Regions from separate parts of the Homo sapiens genome. Here regions 2, 3 and 4 are each linked to region 1. The links come from fine-mapping of genetic effects on gene expression. A gene starts in region 1. Each other region holds a variant in brackets. All regions are shown on one strand. Distances are between the middles of the regions.

Region 1 (8,282 bases):
ATCCCTTTCTGCATCTCCTCCTCCCCCACCCTACTCCTGGCACCGCCCACTCTTCCGGCATTTTCTCTAAGTGGAAGCAATTTCCCCCAATATGAGTGAAACAGAAGCCAACCGAAATACCACTTTGGAAATGCCACACCCTTCACTCTGATCACTCCCCCTGTGCTCAGAATGTAATAGGAAGGCCGCGCATGGTGGCTCACGCCTTTAATCCTAGCGCTCTGGGAGGCCAAGGTGGGCAGATCACCTAAGGTCAGGAGTTCGAGACCAGCCTGGCCAACATGGCAAAACACCGTCACTGCTAAAAATACTAAAAATAGCTGGCCATAGTGGCGCACATCTGTAATTCCAGCTACTCAGGAGGCTGAGGTGGGAGAATCGCTTGAACCTGGAGGCAGAGGTTGCAGTGGGCCGAGATCACACCATTGCACTCCAGCCTGGGCGACAAAGCGAGACTCCGTCTCAAAAAAAAAAAAAAAAAAGAAGAAAAAAGAAAGAAAGTAATAGGAAAAGGGACCCATTTCCAGGAGCCCTGACCCTTATCCGAGGTGGTAAGGTTGTGACTTCTGGGGAGGGAGGGGAGTTTCACGCATATCCAGCCAGTGCAGCTGGAAGGGGAACTTTCACAGGCCCTAGGGACTGTGCTGGCCCTCAGGGAGGGGAGAATGGCCGTTATTTTGGTAGGACCCACAGCAAGTCACAGTGTTTAGCTGCAATAAAAAAGGGGGGGGGGCGGGGGGTTCCTGGGTTTTTTATTTTTTCCATCTTGAAACTGGCAGCATTTCTGCTATGATTGCCGGGGATTTCCACCAACCAAACTAAAGACAACTCAGTCTTAGCGTTAACTGTAGGGAGAGAGGTGGCGTTTTGCCACCTTCGCTATTTATGAAACACTGTCACCGGTACCAAGATGACAATATTTTCCTCCCTTTCAAACAAGCCAGGCTCTGCCATCCTCCAGTGGATAGGGCCCTTCCTTGTCTCCTCCATCCCGGGGTACTGCTTCTAGACCATCTTCTCTAACAGCTTTGCTGAAAAACACACTTGTCCCCTGGGGAGTAGCTGAAGCCACCCTCCTGGCTGAAAGAGCTTTTTTTTCTTTTTTTTTTTTTTGAAATGTAGTCTCACTCTGTTGCCCAGGCTGGAGTGCAGTGGCACAATCTCAGCACACTGCAACCTCCACCTCCCGGATTGAAGCGATTCTCCTGCCTCCACCTCCCAAGTAGCTGGGATTACAGGTGCTCATCACCACGCCCAGCTAATTTTTTTTTTTTGCATTTTTCGTAGAGACAGATATTCACCATGTTGGCCAAGATGGTCTTGAACTCCTGACCTCAAGTGATCCGCCCACCTCGGCCTCCCAAAGTGCTGGAATTACAGGCGTGAGCCACCGCGCCCAGCCTGAAAGAGCCTTCTGAAGGTCCCACGTTAAGGAAACATTTGCTGGGGCCCCAAACCCCACCATCAGGCCCACACCGGCAGCTGGCCTCAGGGAGGGCGGGAACTGCTCTCTACACAAAAATGGTTTTGAAAATAACCCAGCCAAAGGGGAATTGCTTCATCCGTTGCACATTCACTTCTCCCTTTCACTGTGCAATTTAAGTAAAACAAGATGAAGCAGGAACCGACTCTCACCATCCCCACTCCCACCTCCATGAATTCCATCGGACAGTTGTGCGAAAGCGGGCTGGCTTTCGCACAACCATTGGTGGACTGTCTGTCCTGTAAGCCCCCCAGGGGCTGATGCCCTCCCAGTCTGCCTGCCCTGTTCTTAGCACAGCCCCTGGCACCCCGTGTGATCTCAGGAAACACTTGCTAAACATGGTATCGGAGGAGAAACGGAGCCCACAGCTTAGTGCAAAGACCTGGCGGCGTGGACTGAGGCTGCAGAAACGCAGAAACGCGCTTTTCCTGCCAGAAGGGGACATCTGCGTGGTCGGGAGTACCTCTGGGGCACGTGCCCTAATTCCAGAAACATCTAAGTGAGTAGTGTGGCCAATGTAGTCTGTTTCTGAACAGGGGCTGAAGGGCGGGGGAAGTGGGGCTCAGAAGGAGGCTAGCTTAGTTGTCTCTGGAGCAGGCAACTGGGTTGTTGTATTATGTTTCTCAGAGATGGGCTCTTGCTCTGTCACCCAGGCTGGAGCGCAGTGGCACTGTAATAGCTTACTGCAACCTTGAACTCCTGGCTTCAAGTGATCCTCCCGTCTGGGCCTCCCAAAGCACTGGGATGACAGGTATGAGCTACCGCTCTCAGCCACAACTGGGTTTTAAGAGCACTCCTCCAGCCCACTCCAGTGTCTTCCATCATTCTGTGAAAGCACCAAAAGAGGACCAAGCCCAGGAAGCCGCCAGCAGGCCTCTCACCAGCCAAGATGGCTGGAATCCTAATATCAAGAAATGAAACTCCAGCAGGCCATGGAAATGCTAAGGGGTTGGCATTTCTGCTCTAGAGAGAGCCAAAGAGAAAGCTCTATTTATATCTCCTTGCGTTTGGTCGCAGCCTCATCAACCAAAAGAACCTTCCGCCCCACTCAACACATCAATCAAATTGGGGAGGGGGTGTGAACAGCAGCAGCGGGTGTTACAGAGGAGTCTCAAGGGTATCTTAGAGGGTGCCTCTCTGAACAGTCGTCCCCTCCAAATCCCCCCCAAGAGAATTACTAGGACATTCTCCTTCCCCCGCAAGCAACGGCACCCCCAGATGATTAAACGCGCTGGCGTCGGAAAGAGCTGGGATCCTGGAGAAACTACTTGTAAACTGTGTGGGTTGGTGAGTTATTTAACTTTTCTGAGCCTTCGTTTCCTTAACTGTAAAATGAAGACAACACCACTCAGCTCCTACAGTTGTCCAGCTGAAATCACCTAGGTAAGAACGACCAGTTCTTTGGGGAGTAATGTCCCGATGGTACCATTCAATTGTCAAGAACACCAAGGCACCGTCAGGCACCCGGGCGGTATCCCACTCTCCTGGAAGAGAGCAGGGGGTTAGCCCTTGGTTTCAAAGTCCCTAGGGAGCAGTAAACCTTCCCCTCCGAGAGCCCTGAGAGAGGAATAATTGCCCCTTCCCACTCCAACCCACGGCACACCCGCCCACATCCACGTGCGGCTGTGCCCAGCATCTCAGAGGTAGGACTTCTCAGGAATCGGCGGGAAGAAGCCCCCTTGATGGAGTCTGGTGGGGTTCAAGATCTGCAGGTCCCACCTTCCAGGGAACACCTGCACAAGTGAGACCTGCCCGATCAGCCCCGCGCTCCATCCGCAAACTGGGCAGATCCCAAGGGTGCCACGCGAGGACCCTGCACCTTGGCCGCTCCAGGGCGCCCCCCACCCGCGACCCCGGAAATCTCGCCCCTACCTGCTTCACCCTCGCCCCACCCACAGCGCACTTTTCGGGACCTCCCAGCGGCCCTTCCCCGGTTCTCTGGACCCCCGTCTCCCCGCCCTGCAACGCCCCCATCCTGGTGCCCACGAAAGGTCGTCCCAGTTCCCCTCTTCTCTACCTCAAAGGAGGAGGTGCAAATGAGGAAGCCTAAATAAAAACAGGAAACTCGATTTTTTTAAAAAGCCTCATTCAGGCTGAATTACGGGTAAGAGTATTTTTTTAAAAAGTCCGGAAATGCAAAGCTGGGGGCGGTTTTGCCGGCGTAACCCCGGCTCGGCCGCAGATCCGGAGCTGATCTCGCCTGCGCCGCTGCAGCAAACGCGGCGAGCAACGCGGGAGGCCCGGGACTGGGAGGCGGGGCGCGGGTCCACGAGCCGGGAGGAAGCCCCGAAAACTTCCACCCCGGCCCCTCTGCAGCCCCGCTCCCCACTTGCCCAGGCTGGGAAGGGCGCACAGGACCCGGGCGCCGGCGAACTGTGCGCAGCCCTCTCTCCGCGCCAGGGCACTCGGGCGACATCACCAGCGCGCTCTCTGTGGACCCCGCTGCCGTACAGAGGAGGCCCCTGGTCCTCTAGTCAGCGCTCGGAGCGGGCGCACGCGCTGAGCGCTTCCAGTATCCTCGCGCCTCAGCCGGCGCACCGGAGGCCGCACCGCCGCTGTGAGCGCAGCTGAAACCCCGCTGCCGGGCCAGGCGGGCAAGGCGCGCAGTGCAGGCGCCGGGGAGCTGCGCACGCCCCTCTCGGCGGGCCCACGGGGGACGGCCCCGGGCCTCTAGGGCAGCCCCCGCCCAGGTCCCAGCAGCCCGGCCCCCGGGGCTCCCAGGACCCGGCTCGCTAGACTCGGGGAGGCGCCCAGGGCCAGGGCGCACGGGCTGTGTGTGCCGGAGAGACGCCCGCCAGCCAGCCCCGCGCCCCCGAGCGCAGCCGCAGCTCCCAAAGCCCCTGGCCGCGGTCCTCTTCCCACCTCCCCTGACGCAGCCAGCGGCGATCGCTTACCGTCCCGGCGCAGCTGGCAGGGCTGGGCGGCTCTGCTCGCGGCCGCTCGGAGCGACTGCGCTGGGCGCGAGTGAGCCTCGAGGGAGGGAGGCGGGGCGCGCCGGGGCGCCCCGCCTGCCGCCAACCCGCACACTCCACTTCCCACTTTGTTTCCTTTTCACTTGCAACAGGAAAAACAACAGGTCCTCCAGGGCCTCGCCTTCCCCCGCCGCCCACACTCCCCAGTTCGCCTACCGCTAGAGGGGCATCATCCCAGGTGCCTCTGGAAGCTGCACCTTGCTTGCCCTTCTACAAAACAAGTTTTCTTTTTATGCAAAGGAAAACAACGAAATAAAGGTCCTAGGCGCCTTTAAGCGCTCCGCCTTCACGCAGGAAAGAATTTCAGCAGGAGCGGGAGAAAGGCTGAGAGCAGGAGAAGAAGAGGGGGTAACCTGCAGCTCTAGGCACCCAGGGACCCCAAGCGCCATTGCGAGGTGACCAGTGTTGGGGCTCAGGACACACACCCAAAATGTGACTATGGGAGACCAGCGTGTGCCACCCCAAAATATACTTCTTCGCCATATTTTGAAGGGATTATTCTTAGAAACTGCAGGCACAGGAGTAGATCTGAAAAGCTGTCCTTTTGTAAAATGATTTCTATCTATAAAGAAAATCTCCAGGCCTGGCACTGTGGCTCACTCCTGCAATCCCAGCAATTTGGGAGGCCGAGGCGGGAGGATCACTTGAGCCCAGGAATTCAAGCCAGCCTGGGCAACATAGGGAAACCCCCGTCTCTACAAAAAAATTAAAAATTAGCCAGTCGTGGTGGTGCACACCTTGTAGTCCCAGCTACTCGGGAGGCTGAGGTGGGAGGATGGCTTGAGCCAGGGAAATGGAGGCTGCAGTGATCCATGATGGCACCACTGCACTCCAGCCTGGGAAACAAAGTGAGACCCTGTCTCAAAAACAGAAAAGAAAAGGAAAATCTCCATTGGTAAAGTATTAGTATCAGGCGGAGGGCTGCTCAGAGCTAACTTTTCTTACCTGAGAAATTTTATCCGCATAAGAAGACAAGCTTCATTCACCTTACCCTCTCTCCCCTCACTCTCCCTTAACTTGTGTACCACCTCCCCAGGATCCCAAGCCTCTATTCCTTTTTTTCTTTTCTTTTCTTTCTTTTTCTTTTTTCTTTTCTTTTTTTTGAGACAGTCTTGCTCTGTTGTCCAGGCTGGAATGCAGTGGTGCCATCTCGGCTCACTGCAATCTCTGCATCCTGGGTTCAAGCAATTCTCCTACCTCAGCCTCCCAAGTAGCTGGGATTACAGGCACACGCCACGACACCCAGCTGATTTTCATGTTTTTTTGTTTGTTTTTTGTTGTTTTGTTTCTTTGTTTTGTTTATTTTGAGGAATCTTGTTCTGTTGCCCAGGCTGGAGTGCAGTGGCGTGATCTTGGCTCACCACAGCCTCAGCCTCCTGGGTTCAAGCAATTCTCCTGCCTCAGCCTCCTGAGTAGCTGGGACTATAGGTGCACACCACCGTGCCTGGCTAATTTTTGTATTTTTAGTAGAGGTGGGGTTTCGCCATGTTCACCAGGCTGGTCTTGAACTCCTGACCTCATGATCCACCCGCCTCAGGCTCCCAAAGTGCTGGGATTACAGGCGTGAACCACCACACCTGACCCAAGCCCTATTCCTTTCTGAAGGAATGTTTCCTGTCCCTTGTAGGATGTTATATGAGCTTTATTCATCTGAGCCTTCATCCAGTCTTGTATTTTGTGGGATTCCCATGCATAGGTCTTAGTTACACATGGTTTTTCTCTTGTTAATCTGCCTTATGTAAATTTAATGTGGAGCCCAGCCAAGGAATTTAGAGGGTAGAGGGAGGCCACTCTCTCCTCCCCTACAGCAGGCATGACTGAGAGGCTCGGGGAGACAGCCCAGGGCCTAAGTCCCTCCTTGCTCAGCCCTGGGTTGACAGCAGCGACCTCCAGGCTTTGGTGGACCAAGAGTATGGGGGTGGTGGGTGAGCCCACCCCTGAGATTACAACAGTGGCTTCATGCCCTCCCAGGATAGGGTGAAGGGTGAGCCAGTCAATTGCTTAGTGAAACAATGGCTTAAAGGACCCTCTTCAATCCAGCCTGGGAAGTAAAGCAGCTGTTATTGGTCCCTTGGACAGATGAGGGATCTGAGGCTTAGAGAAGGACTTTTTCTACCCAAGAGATGCCTGGGCCTCTCAGGACCACCTTGGGCCCCGTGCTGGCTCCAGAGGCTGCAATAAGCAGAGGCCCAGGCCAGGCATGATGGCTCAGGCCTGTAGTCCCAGCACTTTGGGAGGACGAGGCTGGAGGATCCCTTGAGGCCAGGAGTTTGAGACCAGCCTGGGTGATATGGCAAAACCCAGTCTCTACAAAAAAATAGAAAAAATTAGCCGGGTTTAGTGGTGTGCACCTGTAGTTCCAGATTCTCGGGAGGCTGAGGTGGGAGGATCACCTGAGCCCTGGAGGTTGAGACTGCAGTGAGCCATAACTGTGCCACTGCACTCCAGCCTGGGTGATGGAGTGAGATTCTGCTTTGAAAAAAAAAGAAAAAGAGCGAGAGAGAGGCCCAGAGGCCGTTATTCCAGCCAGGAAAGGGGAGAGGGCTTGGGTAAGATGGAGTGGCTTGCTCAATTGTTCCAGTTTTTTTTGTTTTTGCTTTTTTTGTTTGTTTGTTTGTTTGTTGAGACAGGGTCTTGCTCTGTCACCCAGGCTGGAGTGCAGTGGCATGATCTTGGCTCACTGCCACCTTGGCCTCCCGGGTTCAAGCGACTCTCATGCCTCAGCCTCCCAAGTAGCTGGGACTGCAGATGCGTGCCACCATGGCTGGTTAATTTTTGTATTTTTTAGTAGAGACGAGGTTTCACCATGTTGGCCAGGCTGGTCTCACACTCAGGCCTCGGGTGATCTGCCCGCCTCAGCCTCCCAAAGTGCTGGGATTACAGGCATAAGCCACTGCGCCCGGCCTGGTCCAGGTTTTCTAAGATGCAGGCTGCAGATTCTGTGTTCTCCAGTGGACACTTGCAGAGGAGCCAGGAAGGACCACAGGTCCCTTTTGGAAGGAACGTTGGGCCTGTCCCCAGGAATGCACACTAGTATATCCTTTCTAGTGGAGTGTCTGAGGCTCACAGCCTCTTGCTTACCCCAGGCTCAGATTACTGAGCCTTAGCAGCGGTCTCTAGCCTGTTTCAAGGATGCCAAGAGCCAGAAGACAAATGGACGTTTCAGAAGGAACTCTGACGGCCGAGTGAGCAGCCTGTCCTGAGGGAGCGGCCCGTCCTAAGGTTTCCTAACACCTGGCCTTAACCATGCTTTTGCTAGGCTGCACTTTCAACGCTGCCCTCTGGTCTTTAGAGTTTGTTTCAAGAAACAGCCAGATGACGAATGGTTTTGCATCTTCCAAAGGAATTCTTCATTGAATATGTATTTGCTGACAGCAATTCAAATCATGCTTTTTACTATGCAAGATGCTGCCGGGAGAATGGAGGCATGCCAAGTTGTCAAGCGCTAAGATGTGCCTTACATATTGTTCTCTTTGATCCCCATGAAGGAAACCAGAATATGTCCCCCCAAAATATACCTCTTTGACGTAAATATTTTTGAACTTAAGGCAATTAAGAAGCAGCAGGCAGATGAAGAGATCTTTCTATCATCTCCCCTTTTCTGCCTGTTAAATAAAATTTGCAGGAGGCCATTGATTGGGACAAGACCCCTGTACCGGGTCCAACAGACCAAACCAATATGGAGTCATTCATGGTAAATGAAACTAATTAACTTAAGAGTATATACATGTAGCAAATAGCTGAGTTTTTGTCAGTTATAGCAGCTGAGCTTTAGTAGATCTTAGGTGGCCAACTGATTCAAACAAAGCAAACACTGTAACCAATTA
Region 2 (8,282 bases), 98 kb before region 1:
GAGAGGTTGAGGCTGCAGTGAGCCATGATTGTGCCACTGTACTCCAGTCTGAGTGTCAGAATGAGACCCTGTCCCTAAAAAACAATAACAACAAAAATTGGCCAGGCACGGTGGCTCACGCCTGTAATCCCAGCACTTTGGGAGGCCGAGGCAGGCAGATCACCTGAGGTGATTTTCACCTGAGGTCAGGAGTTCATGACCAGCCTGGCCAACATGGAGAAACCCTGTCTCTACTAAAAATACAAAATTAACCAGGCATGGTGGCACGCGCCTGTAGTCCCTGCTTCTCGGGAGGCTGAGGCAGGAGAATCACTTGAACCTGGGAGGTGGAGGTTGCACTGAGCCAAGATCACATCATTGCACTCCAGCCTGGGCAAAAAGAATGAAACTCCGTCTCAAAAAAAAAAAAAAATTAGTCACTGCTGGTGGAAGTAGGCTGGCTCGCTGCCACAATCCTGAGTGTGTTGCTGCACCTCCTGCCAGTTAGGAACTGCAGTTGTAGCAGAGAGGGCTTTGGACAAGACAACATAGAACAGGGGTCGCCATACCTCAGGACGTGGGCCAGTACTGGTCCGTGGCCTGTTAGGAACCAGGCCACACAGCAGGAGGTCAACAGCATGTGAGCGAGTGAGCATTTCTGCCCGAGCTCCACCTCCTGTCACATCAGCAGCGGTATCAGATTCTCACAGGAGCGCGAACCCTGTTGTGAACTGAGCATGCCAGGGATCTAGGTTGTGCGCTCCTTATGAGAATCGACTGCCTGATGATCTGAGGTGGGGCATTTTCATCCCAAAACCATCCTCCCACCCCCATCTGTGGAGAAATTGCCTTCCATGAAATCAGTCCTTGGTGCCAAAAAGGCTGGGGACTGCTGGTGTTCTCAAGTCCAGTGTCTTCTACAATTAGATTGTAAGCTCTAGTCTTTTCTAGAGCTCTAGTCTTTTCTCCACCACTTGCTAGCCCTTTGGCATTGTGCAAATTTAATTTTGTTGAGTCTGTTTCTTTTTCTTTTGTTTTATTTATTTATTTATTTACTTATTTTTTGAGGCAGAGTCTCGCTCTGTCACCCAGGCTGGAGTGCGGTGGCACAATCTCGGCTCACTGCAACCTCCACCTCCAGGGTTCAAGCGATTCTCGTGCCTCAGCCTCCCAAGCAGCTGGGATTACAGGCACGCTCCACCACACCTGGCTAATTTTTGTATTTTTGGTAGAGACGGAGTTTCACCATGTTGGCCAGGATGGTCTTTAACTCTGACCTCTGGTGACCCTCCTGCCTCAGCCTCCCAAAGTGCTGGGATAGGTGTGAGCCACCACACCCGGCCCTGAGTCTCAGTTTCTACTTAGCACATCTACTAAAGAAGGGTATGTGGGCGAGATGGTGTCACATAACCCATTGTGAGGGTCAGACCGATGGCACTGGGATGAGGAGGCTCATGGTGAGCAGAAGGTGCAGTGCCCCAGTGAGTCTCTTCTCTTTTTCCACAGTGTAATGTTATTGTTTCCCTTGAAAAGGTCAGATTTTGACCAAAGTCCTTGACTGATTCAGAAGCATGCCCTGACCATTAGCCCTTGAAACCTACAGTTTTTTTTATTTGTAGCCAGGTCTGATGACACCCTAATTTTCTTGATAACTGAGCTGGGGTATTGGCAGGTGGCAACGGCCTGCCTCTCCTGAACTCTTCCATTTGTTGAATCAGGACCAGGTGATGCCATGGACTCCAGCCTATTCCCTAGAAGTAGGACAGAATTCGTTTGAACTCTCAGAATCAAACCATTTCATGCTTTCTCTGTTTCATACCCCTTCTTCCCTTGGCTCTATTTTTTTTCTGGATTTTGCTACAAAATATGTTTCAACTTTATAATTGGAGAGCAAACAGACGTCTGGTATTGTTTATCTCCCTTCTGCCTGTCTTGTCCCATATTGTCAAAAAAAAACACCCAAGTCTCTTTTATTTTAGATGATTGGTTTTTTGCTTTATTCTTAGGATATGGAAGAATCGACCCAAATCCCTCTTTTAACTTTCTGTTATCTCCACACTTGAATGAAAAGCAGTGAATAGCTTGTTTAATTTTTGACTTCATCATATGAATTTCATGAAACAAGGTATCAGAAACAGGAAATTTTAAAGTAGGGCAGAATTGGGTAAACACACATACACACTCTCTGTCTCTCTCTCACACTGAAAACAAGCAGAAAAATATTTTTCTCCCTCCCTTTGTCCAGAGCAACTGTTCATATTCAGGTGAACGACGTGAATGAGTACGCGCCCGTGTTCAAGGAGAAGTCCTACAAAGCCACGGTCATCGAGGGGAAGCAGTACGACAGCATTTTGAGGGTGGAGGCCGTGGATGCCGACTGCTCCCCTCAGTTCAGCCAGATTTGCAGCTACGAAATCATCACTCCAGACGTGCCCTTTACTGTTGACAAAGATGGTAAGAATCGAGGAGCCGGCTTTTCAGCTAGGTAGACAGTCCCTGCTAACCCCACTGACTTTACACCCCAGCTTCTGTGCTTCGTCAGAACTTCATGGAACTCACAAGTTGGAGACCTAACCTGGTGTGTGTTTGCTTTTAATTGTAAAAACATTTAAGTTTCTACTTTGTTCCCTGACAACTTCTTCTCTGGAACCTGTAAGTCCTGTGTTCTCTTGTGGGGCTCACCTCTTTTTTGCTTTCCCACCAAAATCAAATAAAAATCCTCCTACCTGACATGGCTTTGTTTTTTTAATCTTCTTAACTTTCAGTCCACATGCATCTGAATGAGACTGACCTTTACATTTAGTTTGTCTCATTTTCTGTTCTCCATTAAGTTTTTTGTTTTTGTTTTTGTGGTTTTTTTTTGAGACAGTTTCTCACTCTGTTCCCCAGGCTGGAGTACAGTGGTGCGATCTCAGCTCACTGCAACCTCTGCCTCCCGGGTTCAAGTGATTCTCCTACCTTAGCCTCTCGAGTAGCTGGGATTACAGGTGCCCACCACCACGCCCAGCTAATTTTTTGTTGTTGTTGTTTGTATTTTTAGTAGAGATAGGGTTTCACCATGTTGGCCAGACTGGTCTTGAACTCCTGACCTCAGGTGATCCGCCCACCTTGGCCTCCCAAAGTGCTGGGATTACATGTGTGAGCCACCGCGCCTGGCCATGTTCTCCATTAAGTTAGAATCTCCTGTGACATCTTTTTTTTTTTTTTTTTTGTTTGAGGGAAGGTCTTGCTCTGTCGCCCAGGCTGGAATGTAGTGGTGCAGTCACTGCTCACTGTAACCTCGAACTCCTGGGCTCACGGGATCCTCCCGCCACAGCCTCGCTAGTAGCTGGGACTGCAGGCACACACCTGTAGTCCCAGCTATTTGGGAGGCTGAAGTGGGAGAATCGCTTGAACCCAGGAGGCAGAGGTTGCAGTGAGCCGAGATCAGGCCACTGCACTCCAGCCTGGGCAAGAGAACGAGACCCTGTTCCAAAAAGAAAAAAAAAGATAATACAGTGTTTCCATTGTTAATCAATGCACGGTCTAGAATCTTTGATGGAATTATGGACATTGCAAACACTTTCCAGAGATCTATACTCACCACGTTCAAAAAGCAGGCTTCTGTTCTAAGCAGGTGGG[G/A]GTAGGAAATCTCTCTTTCTTTTAATATAGTAAATGTTTGATCAGCGATCTTATATTTAATATTTGAGGTACTTGAATTATTATTATTTTTTAATCCTCTGAATGTATGTAAACAGTTAAATCTTAATGTAAAGCCCAATGTAACACTGTGAGAGTAAGTGGAGACTGAGCTGTGTAGCTCCGTCTCTTCTGTTGAAACTCTTCAGGATGGATTTAGTGCGTGTTAGGGCTCAGGGAGGACAGGTTGAGGGTTAAGCATCCCAAGCATATGTTTATTTCTGGCTGAGTATTTACAGGGCTTAAAGCCTATGCATTTTGTCTTTCCGCCTAGGACAACAAAAGTAAAACCAGCATGGGTTTTGGCTCTCACTGTTGTTTTTGCCCTCTGTAAGGTTATATAAAAAACACAGAGAAATTAAACTACGGGAAAGAACATCAATATAAGCTGACCGTCACTGCCTATGACTGTGGGAAGAAAAGAGCCACAGAAGATGTTTTGGTGAAGATCAGCATTAAGCCCACCTGCACCCCTGGGTGGCAAGGTGAGCTTCATTCTCTCCCCTGCGCTCACATCTGCTCTTAAAACTGATGTATGCGGCAGCAACCTAGAGTGTGTGTTTTCCTTCTCTCTTCCCCTGCTGACTTGTGGACCAACACAGGATGGAACAACAGGATTGAGTATGAGCCGGGCACCGGCGCGTTGGCCGTCTTTCCAAATATCCACCTGGAGACATGTGACGAGCCAGTCGCCTCAGTACAGGCCACAGTGGAGCTAGAAACCAGCCACATAGGGAAAGGCTGCGACCGAGACACCTACTCAGAGAAGTCCCTCCACCGGCTCTGTGGTAAGGAGACCAGGCGTTCTTGCATCCGGCTGGCTTTGGTGAAGGTGGGAGGGACCTTTACAACTGGAAATACTTGTGTGTGTTGTGTTCATAATTATAAACTGTGACAGAGAATCTGCATTTCTGAAGTGAACTTTGCTGCCTTGCTGGCTAGTTTTCATACTGGATGGGCTTCGGGGGTGGGGCAGGGGGTGGACATCAACTCCTAAACGTCTATTCAACATGTTGTGTATATGTGCATTTTAAGAACCACTGGTGGCCAGATGTGGTGGCTTATACCTGTAATTCCAGCACTTTAGGAGGCCGAGGTGGGAAGATCACTTGAGCCCAGGAGTTTGAGACCAGCCTGGGCAACACAGCGATACCCCATCTCTACAAAAAATTGAAAAATTAACTGGGGATGGTGGCATGGACCTGTAGTTCCAGTTACTTGGGAGGCTGAGCGGGAGGATCACCTGAGCCCGGGAGGTTGAGGCTGCAGTGAGCCGTGATGGCACCATTGCACTCCACCCTGGGCAATAGAGTGAGACCCTGTTTTAAAAAAAGAACCACTGATTTGAAGGAAGTATTTCTCCAGCATACTCTGAGAATCATCCAAAAAGGGCTTCTATAGGAGTACATGGAGTGAGTTTTACATGAAATGAGATGTTTACTTACGAATTGAAGACAAAGGCCAGGGCATGGGGGCTCATGCCTATAATCTTACCACTTTGGGAGGCCGAGGTGGGCAGATCACCTGAGGTCAGGAGTTCGAGACCAGCCTGACCAACATGGAGAAAACCCTGTCTCTACAAAAAAAACAAAAACTAGCCGGGCATGGCGGTGCACGCCTGTAGTCCCAACTACTTGGGGGGCTGAGGGAGGAGGATCGCTTGAGCCCAGGAGGTGGACGTTGCAGTGAGCCAAGATCACGCCGCTGCATTCCAGCCTGGATGACAGAGTGAGAACCTGTCTCAAAAAGAACTGAAGGAAAAATATAGGTAATACAATAGCTTTTGACAAACATGAAGTAGAAAATCAGAACTAAAGATAGCCACATCTAACTTAGAATCTCAATAGATTTTCTATATCACAATATTGTGTGGAGAAATTGAGAGACAGAATTACTGGGAAACCCACCAGAAGGCTAGGTCTCTCTTTACTGTCAGCTGCGGATATTTTTCTGGTTTATCTAAATGAAGAAGAGGTGAGGTATGGATGGCTGTCATGGAAGATGTTGAGGGAAGAACATTTAGTTGACTGGTGATAAAATCCCACTAAATGAAGCAGCGTCTTCATAAATTGGAAGGGTCTTTTGTGTTTCAAAAAGCTTTTGTGAAACAGCTTTTCAGGGAGCATTTTCTTAAACTGATGAGTCTTTTCACTAGCCTGATAACAACCATGAGATTTAGGTTACTGGTTTTCTTTTTTTTTTTTTTAGACAGAGTCTCACTCTGTCACCCAGGCTGGAGTGCAGTGGCGCCATCTCGGCTCACTGCAAGCTCCGCCTCCTGGGTTCACACCATTCTCCCGCCTCAGCCTCCCGAGTAGCTGGGACTACAGGCACCTGCCACCATGCCCGGCTAATTTTTTTGTATTTTTAGTAGAAACGGGGTTTCACCGTGTTAGCCAGGATGGTCTCGATCTCCTGACCTCGTGATCCGCCCACCTCGGCCTCCCAAAGTGCTGATTGCAGGCATGAGCCACCGCGCCCGGCCACTGGTTTATAATTGAAAATTATCCAGATCACTTGAGGTCAGGGGTCTAAGACCAGCCTGATCAACATGATGAAACCCCCGCTCTACTAAAAATAAAAAATTAGCCAGGCGTGGTGCGAGGTGCCTATACTCCCAGCTACTTGGGAGGCTGAGGCAGGAGAATTGCTTGAACCCAGGAGGCTGCAGTGAGCCAAGAGTGTGCCACTACTCTCCAGCCTAGGTGACAAAGCTAGACTTTGTCTTAGAAAAAAAACAATAAATAAGAAGAAAATTATCATGTGGTAAATAAACCAAAGTAGAAAACTAGACATTATGCTGCCACAGTCCAATGATGAGCATATGGGGGTGTTTGGCAACTCTGAATCCAAATATTCATAATTGTCACCTAAATATATTTAAGTAAGGAGGTCTGGCACATTTTCTGTTTTAAACCATGCATGTAAGTATAATATATAAAATTTATTCCGTCTCTCATTTCATGGTATTAAGTGAATTTTTTTTCAGCAGAATAAAGTTAGGAAGAATAGAAATAATTTGAGTGCTTACTATGCACCAGGTACTTTTTTTTTTTTTTTTTTTTTTTTTTTGAGACAGTCTCCCTCTGTCGCCCAGGCTGGAGTGCAGTGGCGCAATCTCACTCACTGCAACGTCTGCCTCCTGGGTTCAAGCGATTCTCCTGCCTCGGCCTCCCAAGTAGCTGGGATTACAGGCATGTGCCATGATGCCTGGCTACTTTTTGTATGTTTAGTAGAGATGGGATTTCACCATGTTGGCGAGGCTCGTCTCCAACTCCTGACCTCAAGTGATCCACCCACCTCGGCCTCCCAAAGTGCTGGGATTATATGCATGAGCCACTGCGCCTGGCCTTACTCCAGGTACTTCTATGTGTGTTTTAGCTTAATGTTCCCAACAAGTCTACGAAGTAGGTGGGTATTGACCTTGTTACAGAGGAATTAAACAATTGAGACTAAAGCAGGTTAAGTAGCTTGCCCAAGCCCACATATTCAGGAGCTGAGGTTCTAGTGTGTGTGTGTGGTTTTTTTTTTTCTTTTGAGACAGAGTCTCACTGTCGCCCAGGCTGGAATGCAATCGTGCTATCTTGGCTCACTGCAGCCTCCACTTCCTGTGTTTAAGTGATTCTCCCACCTCAGCCTCCCAAGTAGCTGAGATTACAGGCATCTGCCATCATGCCTGGCTCATTTTTGTATTTTTGTAGAGACAGAGTTTCACCATATTGGCCAGGCTGGTTTGAACTCTTGACCTCAGTTGATCTGCCTGCCTCAGCCTCTCAAAGTTCTGGGATTACAGGCGCAAGCCACCACGTCTAGCTTCAGGAGCTAAGATTTGGACCAAGGTCTTCTGTTACTCAAGAGGCCAGGCTGGTCCAGCCAAGGCCTGCTGCTCCGAGTAATAGCTTAGTCAAGAAGGAGCTTGCAAAATCTTTTCCTGTGGACAAAAAAAAATTTTTTTAATTTGAACATGGCAATACATAAGAATGGTTGGAAAACATTTTTTATGTTTTTTGACTTAGTAATTTCATTTCTAGGAATTTATTTTAAGGGAATAATCATGGAGACACATAAAGCTGTGCATGCAGGTGAGGTTTATAATAGGAAAAGGTTAGGGACAGCCTCTGTGCCCACCTGGGAGGCTGGTCAGTAGGTGATGCTGTATCTGTACAATGAAATGCTATTCAGGCCGAGCGCGGTGGCTCACACCTATAATCCCAGCACTTTGGGAGTCTGAGGCAGATGGATCGCTTGAGCCCAGTAGTTGGAGACTAGCTTGGACAACATGGCGAAACCCCGTCTCTACAAAAACACAAAAATTAGCCGGGCATGGTGGCACACACCTGTGGTCCCAGCTACTTGGGAGGCTGAGGTGGGAGGATTGCTTGAGCTCAGGAGGTCAAGGCTGCGGTAAACCAACGCTGCACCACTGCACTGCAGCCTGGGCGAGAGAGGAGACCCTGTCTCAAAAAAAAAAAAAAAAAAAAAACAACTATTCAGATAGTTTAAATTACATGATAGAAGAATATTGCTAGGAATATATATGTATTATGCACATACATAGCAGGACTCCACTTTTATTGTATTTGTTTATATATTTTTGAGACAGGGTCGCACTCGCCCAGGCTGGA
Region 3 (4,000 bases), 71 kb before region 1:
ACAGGCGTGAGCCACCCAGCCTGGCCAAAAAATATCTTTTAGAAGGCAGAGGGAGCCAGCGCTCACGCGGCCCCCTAGTGGACACCTGAAAGCCCCGCAGCCCTGAGCACAGCACCCCAACCAGGAGAGGTCACTACACATCTGCCACTGAGTGGAACCATGCCTGGGCGGCTCAACTCTGGTCCAGCCACTTTCCCCTCCACCGCCCACCAGCTCCACTGCTGGGTCCTGGGACGGCATGAGGCACACACAGCTCAGTGCCCTTTGGGGCCTACTGCATTCAGGGCCCTCCTAGGTCACATTGCTCGGGGGCAGGCCTTGGAAGTCCACTGGCGACAGCAGTCTCCTGCCCGGCACATACCTTGAGATACTGGATGTCTTTGGAGCAGCTGAGCTCAGGCAGGCCTGCCGCCCGCATCAGGGCAAAGAGGTGGAGGAAGAGAAGCCCGTGGCGCCGCAGGATGGTGTAGGCCCTTTCACAGTAGCCCCGGAACCTGCAGGTAGGGGACAGAGGAAGTGAGGCTCTGGGAACTCCCAGCCACAGGCCAGAGGGCCGCTCTGCATCCAACCAGCCCCTTCCCCAAGGACACCTGCCCTTGCCCTGATAATGGGTGGACACAAGGCCTCCAGTTCTGCTAACTGACCCCCGTGCCCCAGCCAGCCTCCTGCTACATGACCCACAAACCTGCCCACATTGCCCAAAAGGGGCACTGCAGGGTGGAGCAGGGGCATGTTCCAAACCCATCAACAGTTGGGGTGAGGGGCCAGGTGTGGGGTTGAGACCTGAGCCCCATCCTGCACCCTGCCTGGGAACCTCTGCCCTGTTCCCTGGGGCCCCACACCGAGGGGCATCTGGTGGGGCTCAGGCACTCTCACCGTTCAAATTTCTCACTATTATTAGTCTTCCCCTGCTGAATCACATGGACAAAGTCGTAGGTGAGGATGAATGGGACACGCTCGCGGTTGATTCCAAACTTGGTCTTGAAATTCCCCAGAAAGTGGCCAAAATCAATGTGGAACAGCTGAGGGGAGGGGAGAGGAGGGGGAGGATTGAGAAGGTGTCAGACAGGAGAGAATCCAGGGGAGACAGGAAGCCAGCAGGGCTGGGGGACCCCTGCCACAGAGCTGTGTGCTAGGCAGAGGGGCCAGCAGGCTGGGGCCAGAAGCCAAGTCCCCACAGCAGCCGCCAGCACCAGCCCCTGTACCTGCCCACTCTCTCGGATCATGATGTTGTCGCTGTGCCGATCGCCAATGCCCAGCACATATGTGGCCACACAATAGCCAGCACAGGAGAGGGTGAACTCCTCAATGGCTCGATCCAGGGCCTCCCTGGGTGGGGAAGATTAAAAAGCATGGCCATACCATTTTGCAGCTCCGCCTATCAAGAGGTGGGTTATTACTCCCTCTCCCCTTGAATCTGGCCCTGTGACTTGCTTTGACCAACAGAACATGGAGGACACAATGCTGGACATCGCTTGCAGACGCTATTCCAGAGCCAAGGCATGAAGACCCCTGCAGATCTTGAACCCCATACCCTCAATACAGAGCCACGGAAGGAAGGTGAGGCTGCTAAATGAGGAGACCACATGCAGAGAGGCATCACAGACAGCTGGCGCCAAGGCCCCAGGAATGAGATGGGTTATCTCAGACCCCACTGGCCCAGTTAAGGCACCAGATGAGAACAGCTGCATGAGTGATTATGTGGAACCAGCAGAAAAGCCACCCGGCTGAGCCCAGCCCCAGCTGCAGATCTGTGAGCCAATCGTAAATGGCTGTTTTTTAAAGCCCTGCGCTTTGGATGGTGTTGCATAGCAAGAGACACTGATACTTGGGGAAGAGAGACCTACCTCACCCCAACCCAGACACAGGCTGGTCCTCAACTGAGCCAAGTAGCCACAAAGATGGTCTGAGGCCCCTCCCCGCTCCTTTGTTCTGACAGGCGAGGCCCTC[C/T]CACTCCACACCTCTTGGAAAGGAGAGGGAACCTATCCCTGGGCCTGAAACCCACCCCGGGTTCTTGGACTTCAGCCAGTTGAGCAGGGCATCCTTGTTGAAGGCGGCTGTGGCTGCCATGTTGCTCTTGTTGAGTTGGATGTTGGCGATGGTGTCTGAACGGAGTACCACCTCAATGAGGCCTGTGCGGTCCCCGGTGGGGAGGCAGCCATAGGGGGTCATCCTAGGCAAGGGGGAAGAGGGACGGGCAAATGGCATGGTCAAGGGCTGTCCCTGAGGCCACTTGAGCCCCAGAAACTCATGGTGCCCCAAAAAGCCACAGAAGATGCTGCTGCCCACATTGCTAAAAAGCAGGTGAGAGATGCTGGCTCCTTGGAGATGCCGGCACCAGCATCTGAGGTGCAGAAAGCACCACAGCTGAGTTCACATTTGCTTGGAAGAGAACCAGACAGAGGCCTTGGGAGAAGACGCCACTGCTTCCCAAGATGGGCTGGGGAAGCCAGGGGCACCTGGGCAACTAAAGCAACAGAGCAGGGTACACACTAAGCCTCAGGAGCAGCCTTCACGCATCCTGCTGCCCGCCGCCTCCTGGCCTAGAGTTAAACCGCCTCCGGGTCTTCCTAGGAAAGCCCTTTCCCCGGCTGAGATGGTCATGCCACCTTCAACAAGGACCCCTCCAGGGGCACAGACTCCCAGGCTGGGCACAGACACCAAGGGACGATGTGGGGTGGGGGTCCTCACCTCAGGTCCAGCCCCTCCTGCTTCCACAGGACGTCCATGAGCTGGATCATCTGCAGGGTCAGCATGTCCTGCCGGAGGTCTGTGCCACCGGCCGGTGGGAGGAGAAGCGTGAGTTTCTGGTAGGTTCTCTGCTTCCAGCTACACCCAAGCCCTTAAGTCCCAGGATTCTGTCTTCTCCACCCCCACTCTAGGAGCACCCCAGGACCCCCCAGGGCAGTACAGGCGGGGTGTGGGGAGGCCAGGCCCTCACCATCCCCGTTCTTAAAGATGATGCCCACGCTGCCGCCGCTGCCTGCCTCCTCGTTGCTGTACATGATCCACAGGGGCTTCATCTTGGAGTCCATGAAGGTGCACTGCTCCACGCTGCCAGGCCAGAGAGCGGGCAGTCAGCAGGGGCTCCTCTACCGGCCTCCCAGGGGTGGGAGGAACCCTTGTGGCGGGGCTTGGGCTCACCAGACTTCAGCCAGCAGGGTGCTGGGGTCGAGTGGGGACTGCAGGTGGGAGAGGGCCTCTAGGTAGGCCTCCTGCCGCATGCACAAGTGCATCAGCTCCTTGGTCTGGGGCTTGGGGGTCTTCTGAGAGCTCAGCTTGACGAAGTCATTCAGGGCCTTCAGTTTGCTCAGTGCTTCCCCCTGGTGGGCAGATGGGAGGGCGGCGGTGGGCAGGTCCCAGCCTCGACCCAGCCCTGGGGATTCCCAGACGCTCAGGGCCGCCCCCTGCCCGCCCCCCAGGGCCTTGGGCCTCACCTGCTTCATCAGCACCTTCATGTGGTGGGTGCTGCCCCTGCAGTAGGCCTCCAGGATGAGGCCGAAGCGCAGGGCCACCGACGGCACGTGCATCTCGGAGCTGGAAGGTGAAGGGAGGGCTGAGCCTCACCAGGCAGCACCACGCAGCCCCTCCCGCCCAGCAGGACCTAGCGAGGCCAGGACACCCAGGCCTGCTGGAAACGTCCCCAGTGGCCTTCCAGGGAGACTCAGGGGCTGGGATTCCCACAGAACGGCTGGGGCAAGTCCCGCTACCGGAGGTGCCAGAAAAGGAAGTGGCCGATCTTGCGGTTGGCCAGGGCCCGGTCCAGCAGGAATTTGGTCAGCTCGCAGTCCAGGTAGGACTCGTACTTGAGCACCTGCACCAGCTGCAGCAGGTACTGGAACAGCTCATCGTCCCTGCAGGGAAGGAAGGCGCTGGGGCCTGGAGCTCCCCGACTCAGGACAGGAGGGAGCTCCCTCGGCAGCCAGAGGGAGGCCAGGCAGGAGGGAGCAAGCCCACGGGAAGGTTCAGGCCCCACCCAGAGCCCACGTCCTGGCAGCCA
Region 4 (8,282 bases), 29 kb before region 1:
CTGTGATCCCAGCTACTCAGAAGGCTGAGGCACGAGATTCGCTTGAACCTGGGAGGCGGAGGTTTCAGTGAGCCCAGATCGAGCCACTGCACTCCAGCCTGGGCAACAGAGCGAGACTCCATCTCAAAAAATAAAAAAATAAATTAAGTATAACCAAAAAAAAGCAACTAAAGACAACAACCAAAAACAAACAAACAAACAAAAAAACCAGTTACATGTTTGCTTTTAATTCTATTAGAATAAACAGGAGGGCTCCAAAAAAATCCTCAAAGGAGTTTCCATATTTACTCACATATTCCACCCTTGATATTTTTATTCTCAAAGCACAAGAATGAGGGACCTAATTATAAGAGGCCCATGCTCTCCTGCCATCCTTACATATTTTCATTTATCTTTGAGACTCTCACCCCTGGGTAACTCAAAAAGTGGCTCATCTGTAGTTAAAAAGCAAAGTTAATTAGCATCTGGCACTTCCTTCTTTCCTTCCTCAATTCTCCAAGCTTAGACTAAAAGTCTGTCTTAATTGAGGCTTCCTGAGTTTGTGACCTGGGGCAGGAGTTGAGGGGTTGGGGATATAAGCAGAGAGAGAAAAAAAAAAAGCTTGGGTTTGCATTGCTCATTCTTTTTTCTTTTTTCTTTCTTTTTTTTTTTTTTTTGAGACAGGGTCTCACACTGTGACCCAGGCTGGAGTGCAGTGGCGCTATCACAGGTGCTTGACCTTGTGGACTCAGGTGATCCTCCCACCTCAGCCTCCCGAGTAGCTGAGGTGTGTGCCACCATGCCCAACTAATTTTTAATTTTTGTAGCGATGAGGTCTTGAGGTCTTGCTATGTTGTCCAGGCTGGTCTCAAACTCCTAGGCTCAAGGGATCTGCCTGCCTCAGCCTCACAAAGTGTTGGGATTACAGATGTGAGCCATCACACCCAACTGCATTGCTCTTTCTTTTTTCTTTTTTTTTTTTTTTTGAGACGGAGTCTCTCTCTGTCGCCCAGGCTGGAGTACAGTGGCACCATCTCAGCTCACTGCAACCTCGGCCTCTTGGGTTCAAGCGATTCTCCTGTCTCAGCCTCCCAAGTAGCTGGGATTACAGGGGCCTGCCACCATGCCCAGCTAATTTTTGTATTTTCAGTACAGATGGGGTTTCATCATGTTGGCCAGGCTGGTCTCGAACTCCTGACCCCAGGTGATCCACCCTCCTTGGCCTCCCAAAGTGCTGGGATTACAGGCGTGAGCCACTGCGCCCAGCCTGCATTGCTCATTCTTTCAAGTATCAGCCAAAAAGCACGTGTGGCTCGTGGTTGCAGGGACTCCTCCCATTGAGAGATGGCCTCTGTGTCCCCTCCTCTTAAATCTAGTGGGCTTGTGACTGCCAAGAGAGTATGGCAGCAGAGATGCTAAGTGACTTGAGAGGTGAGGCCATGAGAAGCCATGCCGCTTCCTCCTTGGTTAGAATGCTGGCTCTTGGAATTCTGAGCATTAAGTTAGAGGTCTGACTACCCTGACGCTGCCATGCAGTGACACAACCCAAGCAAGCCAGAAGGAGAAACCATGTGAAGGCACTCAAGTTGACAGTCCCACCTGAGCCCAACCTTCGTCATCCCACCCAGGTACCAGACATGAGTGATGAAACTTCCAGATGATTCCAGACCCCACCTGTTCAAGTTGTTACCAACCCCTTGAGAGTCTTCCCAGCTGACTCCAGATATCATGGGAGCAGAGCCAGGCCGTCCTGCTGAGCTCTGTCGGAATTCCTGGCCCCTGGGACCGTGAGCATCACAGTGTTGCTTTATACCGCTGAGCTTGGGACAGGCTGTTATGTAGCAAGAGATCCCTAGAACTCTGAAGATCTCATAAAATCCTCAAAACAACCCCACTAAATAGTTACAATAGTCATCTTCATGAGGAAACTGACGCCGAAGCCGTGCAGGAAGTGACAGAGCAGGAATCAGAACCCACCTGGAACCACCACCTAAAACTGCTTCTAACACCAAGTTGTCCCACTGCTATAAGGCACAAGGCTCGTTTTTTTTGTTGTTGTTGTTGTTGTTTTTATTTTTTTTTTTTGAGACAGAGTCTCACTCTGTCGCCCAGGCTGGAGTGCAGTGGCGCGATCTCGGCTCACTCCAAGCTCTGCCTCCCGGGTTCACGCCATTCTCCTGCCTCAGCCTCCCGAGTAGCTGGGACTACAGGTTCCCGCCACCACACCCGGCTAATTTTTTGTATTTTTAGTAGAGATGGGTTTTCACCGTGTGAGCCAGGATGGTCTCAATCTCCTGACCTGGTGATCCGCCCGCCTCTGCCTCCCAAAGTGCTGGGATTACAGGCATGAGCCACCATGCCCAGCCTGTTTTGGTTTTTTGGTTTTTTTTTTTTTTTTGAGACAATGTCTCCCTTTGTCACCCAGGCTGGCATGCAGTGGTGCCATCTTAGCGAGACCCAGCCCCCCAAAAAAAAAAAAAAAAAAGGTCCAGGGCCCAATCCCAGTGGGGAAAGCGTTTGACACGTCCCACCATGGCACTGGGTCACCCCTATGATGGGTTACACCATCTAACAGAAGTCAGCAGAGACATCTCCTTTCCTGGTTGGCCCATGAGTGTCCCTGAGGGACAGGGTCAGTTCCCACTAAAATGGACATCCATTGTTACACATTTAAAACCCCAGTGGTGGCTCATGACTGTAATCACAGCACTTTGAGAGGCCAAGGAGGGTGGATCACCTGAGGTCAGGAGTTTGAGACCAGCCTGGCCAACATGGTGAAACCCTGTCTCTACTAAAAACACAAAAATTAGCCACCTGTGGTGGTGTGCACCTGTAATCCCAGCTACTCGGGAAGCTGAGGCAGGAAAATCGCTTGAACCCAGGAGGCGGAGATGGCAGTGAGCTGAAATCGTGCCACTGCACTCCAGCCTGGACAACAGAGTGAGACAGCGAGACTCCGTCTCGAAATAAATAAATAAATACCCAGGCCAGACGTGGTGGCTGACGCCTATAATCCCGGCGCTTTGGGAGGCCGAGGTGGGCAGATCACCTGAGGTCAGAAGTTCGAGACCAGCCTGGCCAACATGGTTAAACTTCGTCTCTCCTAAAAATACCAAAAATTAGCCAAGTGTAGTGGCATGCCTGTAATCCCAGCTACTCAGGAGGCTGAGACAGGAGAACCCTGGAGGCGGAGGTTGTAGTGAGCTGAGATGGCGCCACTGCACTCCAGCCTGGGCAACAAGAGTGAAACTCTGTCTCAAATAATACTAATAATAAAATAAAAAATAAAAACGCAGCCTTGGCTAGGTGTGGTGGCTCATGTCTGTAATCCTAGCACTTTGGTAGGCCAAGGCAGGCAGATCGCTTGAGCTCAGGAGTTGGAGACCAGCCTGGCCAACGTGGCAAAACCCTATTTCTACAAAAAATACAAAAATTAGCCAGGCGTGGTGGTAGTCCCAGCTACTCAGGAGGCTGAGGCAACAAGATCACTTGAACTCAGGAGGTTGAAGCTGCAGTTGGGAAAAGCTGAGATTTCATCACAGAGAACTCATAGCTGGTCCAAAGCTAAGTCCTGGGCAGACTGAAATCCCTTCCAGAACAAGCTGGCTCATTCTCCAAAGCTAAGTCCCGGGGAGACTGCAGTCCCTTCCAGAACAAGCTGGATCACTCTCCATATGAAACTACATTCAGTTACTTCCGTCCTGAGATTCTCACCGTTGTGTAGCCCCCACCCACATTCACAGTCAATGTGACCTAAAGAATATGGCACAGTGATGGGATAGCACCTTTAACATTAGATTATAAAAGAATCCGGGCCAGGTTTGGTAGCTCACACCTGTAATCCCAGCACTTTTGGAGCCCGAGGCGG[G/C]GAGGCGAGCAGATTGCCTGAGGTCAGGAGTTCAAGCCAGCCTGGCTAACATGGTGAAACCATCTCTACTAAAAATACAGAAACTAGTGGCGCACGCCTGTAGTCCCAGCTACTCGGGAGGCTGAGGCAGGAGAATCGCTTTAACCCGGGAAGGGGAGGTTGCAGTGAGCCGAGATTGCGCCACTGCACTCCAGCCTGGGTGACAGAGTGAGACTCCGTCTCAAACAAACAAACAAAAAAAGCAGCAGCAGCAGCCAGGCATGGTGATGCATACCTGTAGTCCCAGCTGCTTGAGAGGGTGAGGCTGGAGGGTTGCTTGAGCCCAGGAGCTGGAGGCTGCAGTGAGCTCTGATTGTGCCACTGCACCTCAGCCTGGGCAGCAGAGACCCTATCTCTAAAATTAATTAATTAATTAATGAAAAAATTAGGTTATGAAACATCACTGGGGCTTCAGTCTTGGGCTTATACACCCCCTCCCCTCCCCTCCCCTCTTCTCTCTCTCTCTCTGTCTCTCTCCAGTGCTCTCATCTCTTGCTCTGGGGTAAGCCAGTGGCCATGCTATAAGGACACTCAAGCCACCCTATGAAGAAGCCCACATGAAGAGGAACTGAGATATCTGGCCAACAGCCAGCCAGTCACTGAGCCTGCCAACCACGCTGTGGCAGGTACCTCCAGCCCCAGACACCTGCAGCCTCCACTGAAAGCTCAATGGCAGCCTCATGAGACCCTGGACCGGAACCACCCAACGAAGCGGCTCCTGTATTCCTGATTGACAGAAACTACGGGATCATAAATGCTTGCTGTTCAGTCTGCCAAGTGTTGGCGTGATTTGTTAAACAGCAACCAGTAACTAATACGCCACCCATGGCTGCCGCGTTCCTGCTGTGGGGCCAGCACTATTCCATGCTTAGAGGCTCCATCAATACCTGTGATGGACTAAATGGTCAGTACAAACAACAGCTCCTCTGTAATGGTATGAGGCAGACAGGTTTCTAAAGGCAATATGCTAAGGTGCAAACTCAACCCCAAAAGACCACATAGTGTATCATCCCATTTATATGAAATGTCCAGAACAGGCAAATCCATAGAGACAGAAAGCAGATTAGTGGTTGCCAGAGGCTGAGAGATGGAAGAAAAGTAGAGAGTAACTGCTAATGGTGTGAAATCTCTTTTTGGAGTGATGAAAATGTTTTAATTTTTTTTTTTTAATAGAGACAGGGTCTCACTATATTGCCCAGGCTGGTCTTGAACTTCTAGGCTCAAGTGAGTTCAGCCTCAGCCTCCCAAAGTGCTTGGATTACAGACATGAGCCACCATGCACAGCTTAAAATTTATGATGCTGATGGTTGCATAACTGTGAATATACTAAAAACCACTGAGGCGGGGTTTGGTGACTGACACCTGTAATCCTAGCACTTTGGGAGGCCGAGGTGGGAGGATCACTTGACACCAAGAGTTTGAAACCAGCCTAGGCAACATAGCAAGACTCCATCTCTACAAAAAATTTAAAAATAAAAATAAAAACCATTAGGCCAGGCATGATGGCTCATGCCTGTAATCCTAGCACTTTGGGATGCCAATGCGGGTGGATCACCTGAGGTTAAGAGTTCGAGACCAGGCTGGCCAACATGGTGAAACCCCATCTCTACTAAAAATACATAAAGTAGCCCGGTGTGGTGGTGGGCGCCTGTAATCCCAGCTACTCGGGAGGCTGAAACAGAAGGATCACTTGAACCCGGGAGGCAGAGGTTGCAATGAGCCGAGATCACGCCACTGCACTTCAGCCTGTGTGACAGGAGTGAAACTCCATCTCAAAAATAAAAACGAAAACAATAACAACAACAGCAACAAAAAACCATTGCATTGTGCACATTAAATGAATTGTATGGTATGTGAATTCTAGCTCAATAAAGCTTCTTATGCTAAAACATGACGAGGAAGAAGAGGAGGAGGAGAAGAGGCAAAGTCACTGGTGCCCAAGGAATGGCACCAGGAGTGGTCTCCAGGAAGGCTGGCCACCTGTAGGGCTGGGAGAGCTCTGTGATGCTGACATCAGGGGCCTTCTTCATGCCTGAGAAACAGGACATGGGCTAAGGGCGGCTAACCAAGGCCTGGGAGAATATTGAGAGGTAAACAGGCGATGTGGGTGTGGGGCGCTCAGCCTACTTGGCCAAAGGGTGAGTTCTTGCTAATTTCACAGGGAGAGCCTGACTGGTCTCAAGCACCTGAGGCCCAGCATGAGAAGTCAACATCCCTGACTTCTCATCCTCTATAGAAATTTCCCCCAGACCAGGCGCGGTGGCTCACGCCTGTAATCCCAGCACTTTGGCAGGCCAAGGTGGGCGGATCACCTGAAGTCAGGAGTTCAAGACCAGCCTGGCCAACACCGTGAAACCCCGTCTCTACTAAAAATACAAAAATTAGCCAGGCATGGTGGCACGTGCCTGTAATCCCAGCTACTCAGGAGGCTGAGGCAGGAGAATCACTTGAACCTGGGAGGCGGAGGTTGCAGTGAGCCAAGATCGTGCCATTGCACTCCAGCCTGGGCGACAGAGCAAGACTCCATCTCAAAAAAAAAAAAAAAAAAAAAAGTTTCTCCTGACTACCCGGAAAGAAGGTTCACACACCCAGCTCTCGCAGGCATGCTTCCCCATGTGCCTAAGCCAAGGCCCTTCCCACAAAAGGGGCCTTACACATGCCCCAAAGGATGGTCCTCTTCCAGAAATGAGCCGATGATACAGTGGAGAGTCACCCAAAGACGCAGGAAAGTCGATCCTTGCTGAAAGCCCCAGAAAGGGGCTGTAAATTTAGGACAAAGGATTTAAATGGCAGGGGCAAACTTGTGCAATGTCTTCTTTAAGAGGTGGTCAAGAAAGAAAATAGAAACAGGTTCAAGACAGACTTTGAATAGGTTGCTGGCAAGTGTGTCTTACAGAGGTGTCACAGGGTCAGAATGATTTGCCCCTTTGAGGTTGGTTTCAGAGTCAGAATCTCATACGACAGAGAAGCTAGAGGTTGGACCTAAACAGTCCTTCCCTGCACACCAACAGAGTCTGTGGATGAAAGAGCCTTTTTCTGGAGAGAGTCCATGCTTTTCTGCAGGTTTTCAAAGGGATTTAAAATCTGAGACAGGTTAGGAACCACTGGGTGACGTGGTTCTGGGGTAGGTGGAAGATGGAGTTTTTTTCTTTTTCTTTTTTGGAGACAGGGTCTGGCTCTGTCACCCAGACTGGAGTCCAATGCCATAATAGGCTCATGGCAGCCTCAACCTCCCGGACTCAAGCGATCCTCCCGCCTCAGCCTCTCGAGCAGCTGGGACTAGAGGTGTGTGCCACCATGCCTGGATAGTTTTTGTGTTGCTGTTTTTTGTAGACACAGGGTTTCCCTATATGGCCCAGGTTGGTCTCAATTGATCCTCTTGCCTTGGCCTCCCAAAGTACTAGGACTACAGGTGAGAGCCACAGTGCCCGGCCGGATTTTTGTTTTTTTGTTTTTGTTTTTTTTTTTTTTGAGATGGAGTTTCGCTCTTGTTGCACAGGCTAGACTGCAATGGCGCGATCTTGGCTCACTGCAACCTCCGCCTCCCGGGCTCAAGTGATTCTCCTGCCTCAGCCTCCCAAGCAGCTGGGATTACAGGCAGGCGCCACCACACCCAGCTAATTTAGTATTTTTAGTACAGACGGGGTTTCACCATGGGCTGGTCTCGAACTCCTGACCTCAGGTGATCTGCCTGCCTTGGATCTCTCAAAGTGCTGGGATTACAGGCATGAGCCACCACGCCCGGCCCAGATTCTTTTTTTTCTTACTCTGCCAAATCTATATTTTATAAACTTTTAATAACTAACTTGTGTTGATTCCATGTAATTAAAAACGTACAGTATGCATGAATAAACACATTTATAAAACATATGGCATATATATTTAAAACATCCGCATGCACGATCTGGAAGATCACGGCCTATAATTCCCAGATGCAGCCTCTGCTGTAATTTTTTTTTTTTTTTTTTTTTTAGACAGGGTCTCACTTTTTCACTCAGGCTGGAATGCAGTGGCACCATCTTGGCTCAGTGCAGCCTTGACCACCCTGGTTCAAGCGATCCTCCTGCCTCATCTCCTCAAGTAGCTAGGTCTGCAGACATACGCCACCACACCTGGCTAATTTTTGTATTTTAGTAGAGACGGGGTTTCACCATGTTGGCCAGGCTGGTCTTGAACTCCTGACCTCAAGTGATCTGCCTGCCTCCGCCTCCCAAAGTGCTGGGATTACAGGCGTGAGCCACCGCACCTGGTCTGCTGCTGCAATCTTAAGATGGCCATATAATATCTCTTAAAACTACAAATTCCACTTTCCTTCTTCTGTCCTGACCTCAACTTAATCACAAACAAACAACCTCCCTCCCAAAACACACACACACACTCATGGCAGTCCCCCCGT

Direction of the effects. Positions count from the first base shown, and alleles are read on the strand shown. Sizes are in standard deviations (SD) of each study's normalised expression. Not every link is listed here.
With allele C in place of G in region 4, the expression in aorta of the gene that starts at base 4,449 in region 1 is higher (small effect, 0.25 SD a copy in GTEx).

What was found. PIP is the estimated chance that this variant, and not a neighbour inherited with it, causes the effect. A credible set is the group of variants that fine-mapping cannot tell apart.
Region 2: its variant is the best candidate, but not a certain one, in a credible set for the expression of PIK3CD in whole blood (INTERVAL, PIP 0.78).
Region 3: its variant is the best candidate, but not a certain one, in a credible set for the expression of PIK3CD in prefrontal cortex (GTEx, PIP 0.79).
Region 4: its variant is the best candidate, but not a certain one, in a credible set for the expression of PIK3CD in aorta (GTEx, PIP 0.86).

The regions. Positions count from the first base shown.
Region 1 is chr1:9,647,898-9,656,179 of GRCh38, reverse strand. PIK3CD (phosphatidylinositol-4,5-bisphosphate 3-kinase catalytic subunit delta) reads right to left here and starts at 4,449. Exons shown (of 24, transcript NM_005026.5): 1 at 4,378-4,449. It overlaps PIK3CD-AS1 (PIK3CD antisense RNA 1), which reads left to right and starts at 1,594. Exons shown (of 2, transcript NR_027045.1): 1 at 1,594-1,982; 2 at 2,137-3,570. RefSeq lists enhancers at 2,207-2,256, 3,397-3,466 and a silencer at 3,647-4,536.
Region 2 is chr1:9,745,624-9,753,905 of GRCh38, reverse strand. CLSTN1 (calsyntenin 1) reads left to right here. Exons shown (of 19, transcript NM_001009566.3): 5 at 2,225-2,433; 6 at 3,993-4,142; 7 at 4,260-4,445. Among named protein-coding and RNA genes, the nearest start is that of PIK3CD-AS2, 62 kb to the right of the region's middle. The variant G/A (reference allele first, on the strand shown) is at 3,601.
Region 3 is chr1:9,721,298-9,725,297 of GRCh38, reverse strand. It overlaps PIK3CD (phosphatidylinositol-4,5-bisphosphate 3-kinase catalytic subunit delta), which reads right to left. Exons shown (of 24, transcript NM_005026.5): 15 at 3,711-3,854; 16 at 3,438-3,537; 17 at 3,145-3,323; 18 at 2,942-3,054; 19 at 2,692-2,770; 20 at 2,006-2,173; 21 at 1,206-1,329; 22 at 877-1,022; 23 at 362-494. Among named protein-coding and RNA genes, the nearest start is that of PIK3CD-AS2, 36 kb to the right of the region's middle. RefSeq lists a silencer at 27-235 and an enhancer at 3,109-4,000. The variant C/T (reference allele first, on the strand shown) is at 1,951.
Region 4 is chr1:9,677,220-9,685,501 of GRCh38, reverse strand. The region is part of intron 1 of PIK3CD (phosphatidylinositol-4,5-bisphosphate 3-kinase catalytic subunit delta); the gene reads right to left. All of the region lies in intron 1 of PIK3CD-AS2 (PIK3CD antisense RNA 2), which reads left to right. Among named protein-coding and RNA genes, the nearest start is that of PIK3CD-AS2, 6.2 kb to the left of the region's middle. The variant G/C (reference allele first, on the strand shown) is at 3,848.